2 separate regions of the Homo sapiens genome follow, and region 1 is linked to region 2. The links come from fine-mapping of genetic effects on gene expression. A gene starts in region 2. The other region holds a variant in brackets. All regions are shown on one strand. Distances are from middle to middle.

Region 1 (5,379 bases), 54 kb after region 2:
AATTATATATAATTTTTTAAAAAAGAATTTCCATGACTTACCAGCAACATGAGAGTTGCAGTTGCTCCACATCCTTGTCTACACAAACTATTGACTGTCTGCAGTTTTAGACATTCTGCAGATGTATGGTAGGATCTTGTGGTTTAAATTGTGTTTCCTTGATAACTAATGAAGTTAAGCATATTTCATGTGTACTGGCCTTTGGATATCCTCTTTTGTAAAGTACTTGTTTAAGAGTCTTGTCCTTTTTGGAGGCGGAGGGGGCGACTGTATGACTTTTTCTTATTTATTTATTTTTTTAAGACGGAGTTTCGCTCTTGTTGCCCAGGCTGGAGTGCAATGGCGTGATTTCGGCTCACCACAACCTCTGCCTCCTGGGTTCAAGCGATTCTCCTGCTTCAGCCTCCCAAGTAGCTGGGATTACAGGCATGAACCACCATGCCAGGCTATTTTGTATTTTTAGTAGAGATGGGGTTTCTCCATGTTGGTCAGGCTGGTCTTGAACTCCTGACCTCAGATGATCCACCTGCCTCGGCCTCCCAAAGTGCTGGGATTACAGGTGTGAGCCACTGTGCCTGGCCTGACTTTTTCTTATCGTCTCATTCTTTTTCCGTCCTTCCTTCCTTCCTTCCTTCCTTCCTTCCTTCCTTCCTTCCTTCCTTCCTTCCTTCCTCCCTCCCTCCCTCCCTCTCTCTCTCTCTTTTTCTTTCTTTCTTTCTTTTTTACAGAGTCTCACTCTGTTGCCCAGGCTGGAGTGCAGTGGTGTGATCTCGGCTTACTACAACCTCCACTTCCCAGATTCAAGCGATTTTTGTGCCTCAACCTCCTGAGTAGCTGGGATTCCAGGCATGCACCACCACACCTGGCTAATTTTTGTATTATTAGTAGAAATGAGGTTTCGCCATGTTGGCCATGCTGGTCTCGAACTCCTGACCTCAGGTGATCTGCCCACTTCAGCCTCCCAAAGGGTTGGAATTACAGGCGTGAGCCACCACACCCAGCCTTGTCTCATTCTTTACATATTCAGAATACTGCTTCCAGTCAGGTATGTATTGCAAATATCTTTTTCTACTCTGTGGTTTCCCTTTTCACTCTTATTGGTGTCTTTTGATGAATACAAGCTACTGATTTCAATATAGCTCAATTTATCAGCTTTTCTTTATGGTTATTGCTTTCATAACCTGTTTTTAAGAAGTCTTTGCCAGCTGGGCATGGTGGCTTACACCATAGTCCCAGCACTTTGGGAGGCCAAGGTGGGAAGATCACTTGAGCCAACTTGAGCCAAGGAGTTTGAGACCAGCCTGGGCAATACAGTGAGACCTCATCTCTACCAAAAATTTAAAAATTAACTGGGCATGGTGGCATGAGCCTGTAGTCCCAGCTACTCTGGAGGCTACAAGGAGGATCACTTGAGCCCAGGAAGTAGAGGTTGCAGTGAGCCATGTTCACGCCACTGCAGTGCAGCCAGGACAACAGAGCAAGATCCTGTCTCAAAAAAAAAAAAAGGCCTTTGCTAGCCCCAAAGTCATAAAGATATTCTATGATTTCATTTTTCTATGAGCTTTATTGTTTCACATTTCTACAATCCACTTGGAATTGATTTCTATGCATAGTGTGAAATAGGGGACAACATTCATTCTTAAAATGCAAATGTTCATTTAATCCAATGCCACTGTTAGAAAAAAAAAAACCAAAAAAACCATCCTTTCTTTACCATTCTGCAGTGCTATCTTGGTCACAATTTGACTGTTTATTTATGCAAACATCTATTTCTGGGCTTTTGAACCAATTAGTCAATTGCCACAGAAATTCTGGCATTTTTATTGGGATTGCATTGAGGATAACAATTTGGGGATAAATGTTACTTCGTTTTTGTTTTTTTTTTTTTTTGAGACAGAGTCTCGCCCTGTCGCCCAGGCCGGAGTACAATGGTGCGATCTCGGCTCATTGCAACCTCCACCTCCTGGATTCAAGCAATTCTCCTGTCTCAGCCACCCTAGTAGCTGGGATTACAGGTGCCCGCCACCACGCCCAGCTAATTTTTGTATTTTTAGTAGAGACGGGGTTTCACCATGTTGGCCAGGCTGGTCTCAAACTCCTGACCTCGTGATCTGCCCACCTCAGCCTCCCAAAGTGCTGGGATTACAGGCGTGAGCCACTGCGCCCTGCTGATAACTGTTATCTTTACAACATCGCCAAACTATGCACAGAATAGTCTTCCATTTATTATATATAGGTTTTTTTTCAGTTTCTCTTAGCAATGTTTGTAGTTTTCAGTGTGTACTCTTGTGTCTCCTTTTCGTTGCTTTTTGGGAGAGTATTTGGTTTTGATGGTATTATAAAATAAGATCCTTCTAAGATTTCTTTTTTTTTTTTTTTTTGAGACGGAGTTTGGCTCTCTTGTCACCCAGCCTGGAGTGCAATGATGCAATCTCGGCTCACTGCAACCTCTGCCTCCTGGGTTCAAGCAATTCTCCTGCCTCAGCCACCCGAGTAGCTGGGATTACAGGTGCCTGCCACCACGCCTGGCTAATTTTTGTATTTTTAGTAGAGACGGGTTTCACCAGGTTGGCCAGGCTGGTCTCGAACTACTGACCTCAGGTGATCCACACTCCTCGGCCTCCCAAAGTGCTGGGATTACAGGCGTGAGCCACCACACACGGCCTAAGATTTCATTTTACTTTGTTGCTCATATATATAAATACAGTTTTCATGTTGATTTCATCCAGCAACTTTACCTCCATTTATTTTATTTTATTTTTATTTTTTTGAGATGGAGTCTCCCTGTGT[C/T]GCCCAGGCTGGAGTGCAATGGTGCAATCTCAGCTCACTGCAACCTCCACTTCCCTGGTTCAAGTGATTCTCCCACCTCAACCTCTCGAGTAGCTGGGATTACAGGTGTCCGCCATCATGCGTGGCTAATTTTTGTATTTTTAGTAGAGACCGGGTTTTGCCATGTTGGTCCGGCTGGTCTTGAACTCCTGACCTCAAGTGATCCACTCGCCTCAGCCTCCCAAAGTGCTGGGATTAGCTACTCAGGAAGCTGAGGCAGGAGAATCGCTTGAACCCAGGAGGAGGAAGTTGCAGTGAGCTGAGAGATCACGGCACTGCACTCCAGCCTGGGCAACAGAGTGAGACTCCGTCTCCAAAAACAAACAAACAAACAAAGTGCTGGGATTACAGGCGTGAGCCACCACACCGGGCCACCTCTTCATTTATTAATGTAATGGTTCGCCTGTAATTTATTTTGGATTTTTCTACCTGTAGTTATGTAATCTGCAAATAATGACTTTTATCTCTTCCTTTGTAATGTCTTCTTGTTTATTACACCTATACTTCAATACAGATTATTATAGAACTGGTGAGAGGAAACATCTTTAATTGTTCCCCATCCCAGAGTAAAAACTTTCAATATTTCACCATTAAGTATATTTGCTGCGTGCTTTCTGTAGAGACTCTATCAAAAAAGGAAGTACTCTCAGATGAGAACAGGTCCTGGCAAAAAAAAAAAAAAAAAAAAAAAAAAAAAAGGAAGTGCTCTTTTTCTGTTGTTATTTGTCTGAGACGGAGTTTCACTCTTGTTGCCCAGGCTGGAGTGCAGTGGCGCAATCTCGGCTCACTGCAACCTCCGCCTTCCGGGTTCAAGCAATTCTCCTGCCTCGGCCTCCCGAGTAGCTGGGACTACAGGCATGTGCCACCACACCGGGCCAATTTTGTATTTTTAGTAGAGATGAGGTTTTTCCATGTTGGTCAGGCTGGTCTCCAACTCCCGACCTCAGGTGATCCGCCCACTTCAGCTTCCCAAAGTGCTGGGATTACAGGCGTGAGCCACTGCGCCCCACCTGGAAGTGCTTTTTTTCTAGTCAGTTTATGCTATGAGTTTTATCATGAATGGGTGTTTAATTTTATCAAATGCTGTCTTCATCTATAGAGATTATTTTCTTTTTTTCTATTAATGGTATGAGTACCTTACCTTTTTTTTTTTTTTTTTTTTTTTTTGAGATGGAGTCTCCCTCTGTCCCCCAGACTGGAGGGCAGTGTTGCTATCTCGGCTCACTGCAAGCTCCGCCTCCCGGGTTCACACCATTCTCCTGCCTCAGCCTCCCGGCAGCTGGGACCACAGGCACCCCCCCCCATGCCCGGCTAATTTTTTGTATTTTTAGTAAAGACCGGGTTTTACCGTGTTAGCCAGGATGGTCTCGATCTTCTGACCTCGTGATCCGCCTGCCTCGGCCTCCCAAAGTGCTGGGATTACAGGCGTGAGCCACCGCTCCCGGCCTACATTACCTTTTAAAATATTAAGCCAGCCAGGCGCAGTGGCTCACGCCTGTAATCCCAGCACTTTGGGAGATCGAGACAGGCAGATCACGAGGTCAGGAGATCGAGACCATCCTGGCCAACACGGTGAAACCCCATCTCTACTATAAATACAAAAATTAGCCGGGCATGGTGGCGGATGCCTGTAGTCCCAGCTACTCAGAAGGCTGAGGCAGGGGAATCACGTGAACCTGGGAGGTGGAGGTTGCAGTGAGCTGAGATGGTGCCACTGCACTCCAGCCTGGGCAACAGAGTGAGACTCCGCCTCAAAAAAAAAAAAAAAAAAAATTACGCCACCTTTGTATTCCTGGAAAAACCCCTATGCTGATCTTAATATATTAGTTGTATTGTATTCCTGATTTTGATTTGCTAACTTTTTTTAGAATTTTGCATTATGCTCCTGAGAAAGCCTAACCTGTAATTTTCATTTCCCCTAATGTTTTTGTCAGTGTTTTTTATCAATATTATGTTGACTTCATAAAACAATTCTGTTTGTGTTCTTTGTAAAGAGTTCATGTAAGATTGCTGTAGTACCTGTCAAATTTGTTTCTGTAGAATGATCAAATGTCACTTTATAAATCCCCTCATGGAACTGAATAATGAACCAAATGGTAATATCCACTATAGTTTTCTCACTTGGGGGCTTTCATTTAGACAGAAATTACTAGCTGTCTAAACTGGCAGAATCCCAGAATATGGGAGTTCTTCCTTCATGTAACAGTTACTAATGTTTTTACTAAATAGATGTTCCCCATGCTGAAATAAGATTGTAGAAAATGATGCCAGCCAATTCCTGCTGAATGTATAAGACTTATCCTGTGATCATTATCATTTTATAAAATTATAGGAAAAATGAGTGAATATTTCATTATAATAGGTTAAACTTTAATAAACCCTAGGGAGAAATTCAAGCTATGTATAGTATAGGATAATTTGCTAGAATTCTCACCTCTTCTTTCTTGAGCCACGTGGCCTAGTAAATGGCTAAGACATATGAATACCTTATTTGGAAACATCCCGAAGTATAATTCTAAACTGATTATAGGGGTGTGGTTTGGTTGAGGA
Region 2 (5,377 bases):
ACACTGGTGGGAGACCAGGGGGCAGAAAGAAAGGGATGGATACTGTGTTCCTTTACTGAAGACTATAAATCTTGGTGGGCAACACTTTCCTATAAGCTGCATCTCTCTCTGGATTCTAGTAAACATTCCTTCCTCTATCCCTTTCAAGCCTAAGGCTTCCTGCTGTTGCTAGTCCTATCTCTTCACACTGTTCACACCTTTGTAAACAGTCCCTTTATTAAGCTTTCCTCTAGCACCCCCTTAAGAATGCCATTTTTCCTCTGGTTGACCTTGACTGGATACACTGGTGTCCAAAGACTTACCAGTGAGCCTTTTTATCAGAAAACTATTGGGGGAAGTTCTCCACTAAAACAAGAAGACACAAGATTGAGGCAAAGGGAATCTTCTGAACAATGGTGAAAGATCACAGGATGACAGCTGTGTATTCAGTTTCAGAATAACCAACTCAGAATGGAGCAGGCTAGAAGGTTCTTAAAGGTGTCTTTAAGAAGGTAAAATTGTTAAAATACCTAACAAGGAGTTTTACACAGCTGGGACGGGAATTTGAAACTGAATTAAAGACATGGAAATCTAAGCAAATGAAAAAGAAGATGGTTGGCCGGGCGCAGTGGCTCACGCCTGTAATCCCAGCACTTTGGGAGGCCAAGGCGGGTGGATCACCTGAGGTCAGGAGTTTGAGACTAGGCTGACCAACAAGGTGAAACGCCGTTTCTACTAAAAATACAAAAATTAGCCAGGTGTGTTGGCAGGCACCTGTAGTCCCAGCTACTCGGGAGGCTGAGACAGGAGAATTGCTTGAACCCAGAAGGCGGAGGTTGCAGTGAGCCGAGATCGCACCAATGCACTCCAGCCTAGGCGATGGAGCAAGACTCCGTCTCAAAAAAAAAAAAAAAAAAAAGAAAAAAGAAAAACAAGATGGTTATTAATTTTAGATGTAAGAAAACATTGGGCAATAAAGAAAAAGCAATCATAGTATAGAAAACAGGTCAATTATAAAACAGCATTTATGCAACAAAAATTCCAAGGGACTGATGAATTATTTCCTTTTATAGACTTCCTCATAATATATAGCTTCCCTATTTTTGTAATGTAGAGGTTTTCACAGAAGGTATTTACCAGAATAGCATCTAAAATTACGAGGACATTTATTTTAACATGGTTTGGCCTAGGTCATTTTACAGACTAGACAGTAAAAAATCTCAGCTTATCTATAAACTTCTGATCTGTGTGACCTGGGGTAGGTTACTTAATTTTGCTGACCCTTACAAAGTATGAGGATTGCAAATACAACACACAGAGTGCCTGGCACATAGTAGGCATTCATAAATGACCACTTTTGTCAGCCACCTTAATGGAAGAATGCTGGATAGGGATATTATAAAACCACAAGGAATACAACTTTGACCTCAATTTAGGTGGGTAGTTGAGCATCTGGAAGTCATGAGGTGTTGAAGCCTGACACTATTATAAAAGTAAACACTTCTCAGACTAAGCAAATATGATATGGAACTGACAACAAAATTGAGGGGAAAATGCTCTGAGGAAGATGACTGAAAGAATAAAGTACAGAGTAAAATGGCTTTCAGAGGGGCCAAGAGCAGTATACAGCTCTCCTTTAGAACAGTAACATAAAGACTCAGCTTCTCCTGGGGGTCTCCATCCTGCTTTGTGCCACAGAAAGTGTAGGACTACTGGGGAGGGTTCTGGTTCCTTTCTTAAGTATATAAACAACAAAATCAAAAGTTTTATTTTATTTATTTATTTATTTATTTAGTGACAGGGTCTTGCTCTGTCATCCAGGCTGGATTGCAGTGGCATGATCACAGTTCACTGCAGCCTCGACCTCCTGGACTCAGGTGATCCTCCCACCTCAGCCTCCTAAATAGCTGGGACTATAGGCACACACCACCACGCTTGGCTAATTTTTTGTAGAGCCGGGGTTTCGCCATGTTGCCCAGGCTGGTCAAGAACTCCTGGGCTTAAGCAATCTGCCTGCCTTGGCCTCCCAAAGCGCTGGCATTACAGGTGACAAAGAATTTTAGCTCCAAGAGTTCTTTAGGCCCATCACTTCTAGAGGTTGGTCAGATATTAATGGTGTGAAAGGTAAAGAAAGTCATTGATAACAATTAACATGTGGTAAGCGCTTAAGATTTGCCAGTCGTTATTCTAAGCCATTTTACATGAATCATCCCGTTTAATCTCAATAACAACTCTAAGTTCTTTTATCCTCATTTGACAGATAAGGAAACTGAGACTCACGGAGGTTAAGTAAATTGCCTAAGGTTACACAGCCAGTAAACTCGAAGAGCTAGACCTGAACTCAGATTTGCCAGCCTCCAAAGGCTTCCAGACTTCTAACCGTAATGCTAATATATAGCAAATAGTCTTTAGTTGTGGATTTTCTCACTAGCATAACAGCATTGATCAGGCCATATTCTAGCAAGTGATTTTCAAATATGAAGTGACAGAGATAACATACAAAGGCCAGGCAATTTTAAGCAAATGCTCTTACAGGTGTACTAGGACAGAGCCTTAAAACCAATGACTCCTTCTAAACATGGAGTTCAGACATTCAAATACCTTTACCTAGTAAAGTTCTAATAGAAAAGGAGTTATTTTAGGGCTAGTATAAGTCCATCCATGTATTCCCAGTGTCAACTGTGCTCGACGTAGTAAGTGTGGAATCAATGTCTAGTGACCGGTTAGATGACCCGCATAGTGGATCTTTTCAAATCTCACATGGAGGATCTCATACAAAAACATTAAGAACATTAAAGCAAGCCCTGACAATAATTTTTAAAAAATAACAGTCTATTTCCAGGGTAAACAATTACTTTGTCACGCCGCTGCTTAGGGGCTCGGAGAACCTGCTTCTGATGTGGGTCCAGGTTGAGGAACACTTCGCCACTTGAGAACGCAAATAAAGTCCAGAAATCCAGGACCACAGCAATACTCCAGCCCAGGGTTGCAGGGCAGCCTCTTTACCAGCCGGGCGACCCATTTCTATCTTGGCGCCGGCGAAGCGCCGGTTTGGGCGGGGGACCGCTCTCAGCCTGAACAGTGGGTGGGCCGGCAATGACAATGCAGGAATTCCGCGCAGGCCGCAGGGTTTGGGGACCTGTCTGAAGGGTGGGAGGGAGCACTTTTCACCTGACACACCCAACCCCCCTGCCGCAGCCCAGGGCCGCGGATGAGCGGAAGGAAAGCACTTCCATACTGTCAGATCACTGGGCTTCAGTTGCAGCATAGCGGCCCACCCCGCCGCCCGCGTACGCTCAGCCCCTCAGCGCCGGCCAGGCAGCCACGCACGCGCAGTCCGTTCTCGCTCGCTCCATCAGTCCTGGCCCGGCCCGGGGCCCCGCCCCCGCAGGCCCCGCCCCGCTCCCGTGCGCTGAACGCCCCATATCCGGGTTCCCGCCGCCTCCACCGCCACCGCCTCAGCCGCCTCGCACATTTAGTCTTGCCGGGAGTGGTGTGATTCCCGACCAAGATGGCGGCCGTGGGGCGAGTCGGCTCCTTCGGTTCTTCTCCGCCGGGATTATCCTCGACTTACACTGGCGGCCCCTTGGGCAACGAGATAGCGTCGGGCAACGGTGGCGCCGCGGCAGGCGACGACGAGGACGGGCAGAACCTTTGGTAACGACTCCACCTCTCCCTCAGCCCCCGCTGGCTCCCCCGGCCTTGCGCGGACGCCTCGGGATCCCGTGCCCGCTGGAGCTCGGCGCCGGGCCCGGCCACTGCGTTCCCGGCAGCCCCATCCCCGGCGCGCCGAGGCCGGGTCCGTCCCTCCCGCGCTGCGGCTCCGGCCTCCGGCCTCACCGTACGCCTTGCTTCCCGTTAGGTCCTGCATCCTCAGCGAGGTCTCCACCCGCTCGCGCTCCAAGCTCCCTGCGGGGAAGAACGTGCTACTGCTGGGTAAGTGTTCCCTGCCTCGCCCCGCCCCGCCCGGCCCCCAGCGGCCCGGGGTACCTGGTCCGCGGGCTAGCTCGCTGGCTCTCTTTGTGCGGACAGCCGGCCCAGCCCCGCCCCGCCTCGCCTCCCGACCTGTCGCGGATGGCTGGGAGAGAAGGGGAACACGAGACCCTTGACCCAGGACCTGCGGGGACCCGCCCTCCCTCAGGTTCCTCCTCCTCCTCCCCGGTATATGGGGGTGGCCCTGACAGCTTCCCCTGGGAAGGACAGAATTCGATCGCTCATCTGAGGGATTCTCGTGGCCTGGGGTTTATCTAGAAAATGACAGGTTTTCTTTCATCACAAAAATTGGTAGCAGGAGGCTCTTTGCGAGAGCTGCAGCGCAAATGGCATGCCATTAATATTTAATAGCTGACTCTTTGTATAATTGACAGAAGCTAGAACTAAGACCTGGCGATAAATGTTCTTGATTCAGCGTTCTCTGGTACAATGTGCTCGTGTTGCAGCTACCTTAACTGTCACATATAATTCTGAAATTTGTAAAGGGCAGTAGAACACAACTTTCTAGTTAAGTCTTTTCAGCCAAATGGATGTAATAAGGAGAAACGGTCCAGTGTCAGTTCTCCTGATTGTTCTGTATCTCCTCGGCTCTCTGGAAGTTGTGTATTCTGTTTCTTTAGTGACTCTGGGGGTGGGGATAGAGGACTGAGGGAGAATAGTTCGCAGATTCGCATTTTTCTAGGCTTAGCTCCTGAATCATTTATAGGAGAAATTTCTCTATATAGCTCTTTACATGCGAGATAACTGAAGTTTGGCTTATACGATGATTAAATTTAAAAACTTTGGTATTTGGTGTCGGCTCAATACCAGAGTTTTTTGTTGTTGTTGTTGTTGTTTTGGTTATATCCATCTAAAAACAGGAAACAAGAAGTCAAATACTACTTGATAGGCTGCGTGGTTAAATATGAATGTTTACATAGAAAAAATTACTTTTTTAATAGACTGCTGCCAAGCAAGAATATATGATTATTGATATTCTTTAAAGCTACATGGAGCTAGTTGAAAAATTAGTTTTTACCCTTGTTTTTAATGTGGTTGAAAGCACCTACTGAAGATTAGCCTGGATTGAGTCACTGCCCTATCACATATAAGCCCTAGGATCTTAAGCAAGTTGCTTGACATCTATAAACCTCAGTTTCTTCATCTTTAAAATGGTTGTTATAGAAATAATAATACTTGCCTCTAGGGTTGTGGCGGGAATCAAATGAGTTAATGTTTGTATCGTGGTAATATTTGCAAGTGATACTTTGTCATGGATTTATCTTAAACTGCATTAGAAAATATTTGTGATCAGAACTTTTTAAAAAATTGAATTAGTGCCTACATAAGTGATATTCATAGGGCAAAAATAAATTAGGATCCAAAAGCAAAAAAAAATTGTATAATATATTTTTAGTTTACTAAT

What was found. PIP is the estimated chance that this variant, and not a neighbour inherited with it, causes the effect.
Region 1: its variant is fine-mapped to the expression of DYNC1LI1 in whole blood (TOPMed, PIP above 0.99).

What each region holds. Positions count from the first base shown.
Region 1 is chr3:32,514,683-32,520,061 of GRCh38, reverse strand. No RefSeq gene overlaps it. Among named protein-coding and RNA genes, the nearest start is that of MIR548AY, 11 kb to the right of the region's middle. The variant C/T (reference allele first, on the strand shown) is at 2,791.
Region 2 is chr3:32,568,884-32,574,260 of GRCh38, reverse strand. It overlaps DYNC1LI1 (dynein cytoplasmic 1 light intermediate chain 1), which reads left to right and starts at 3,403. Exons shown (of 13, transcript NM_016141.4): 1 at 3,403-3,636; 2 at 3,842-3,915. The coding sequence starts at 3,491. RefSeq lists silencers at 3,206-3,465, 3,646-4,135 and an enhancer at 3,410-4,195.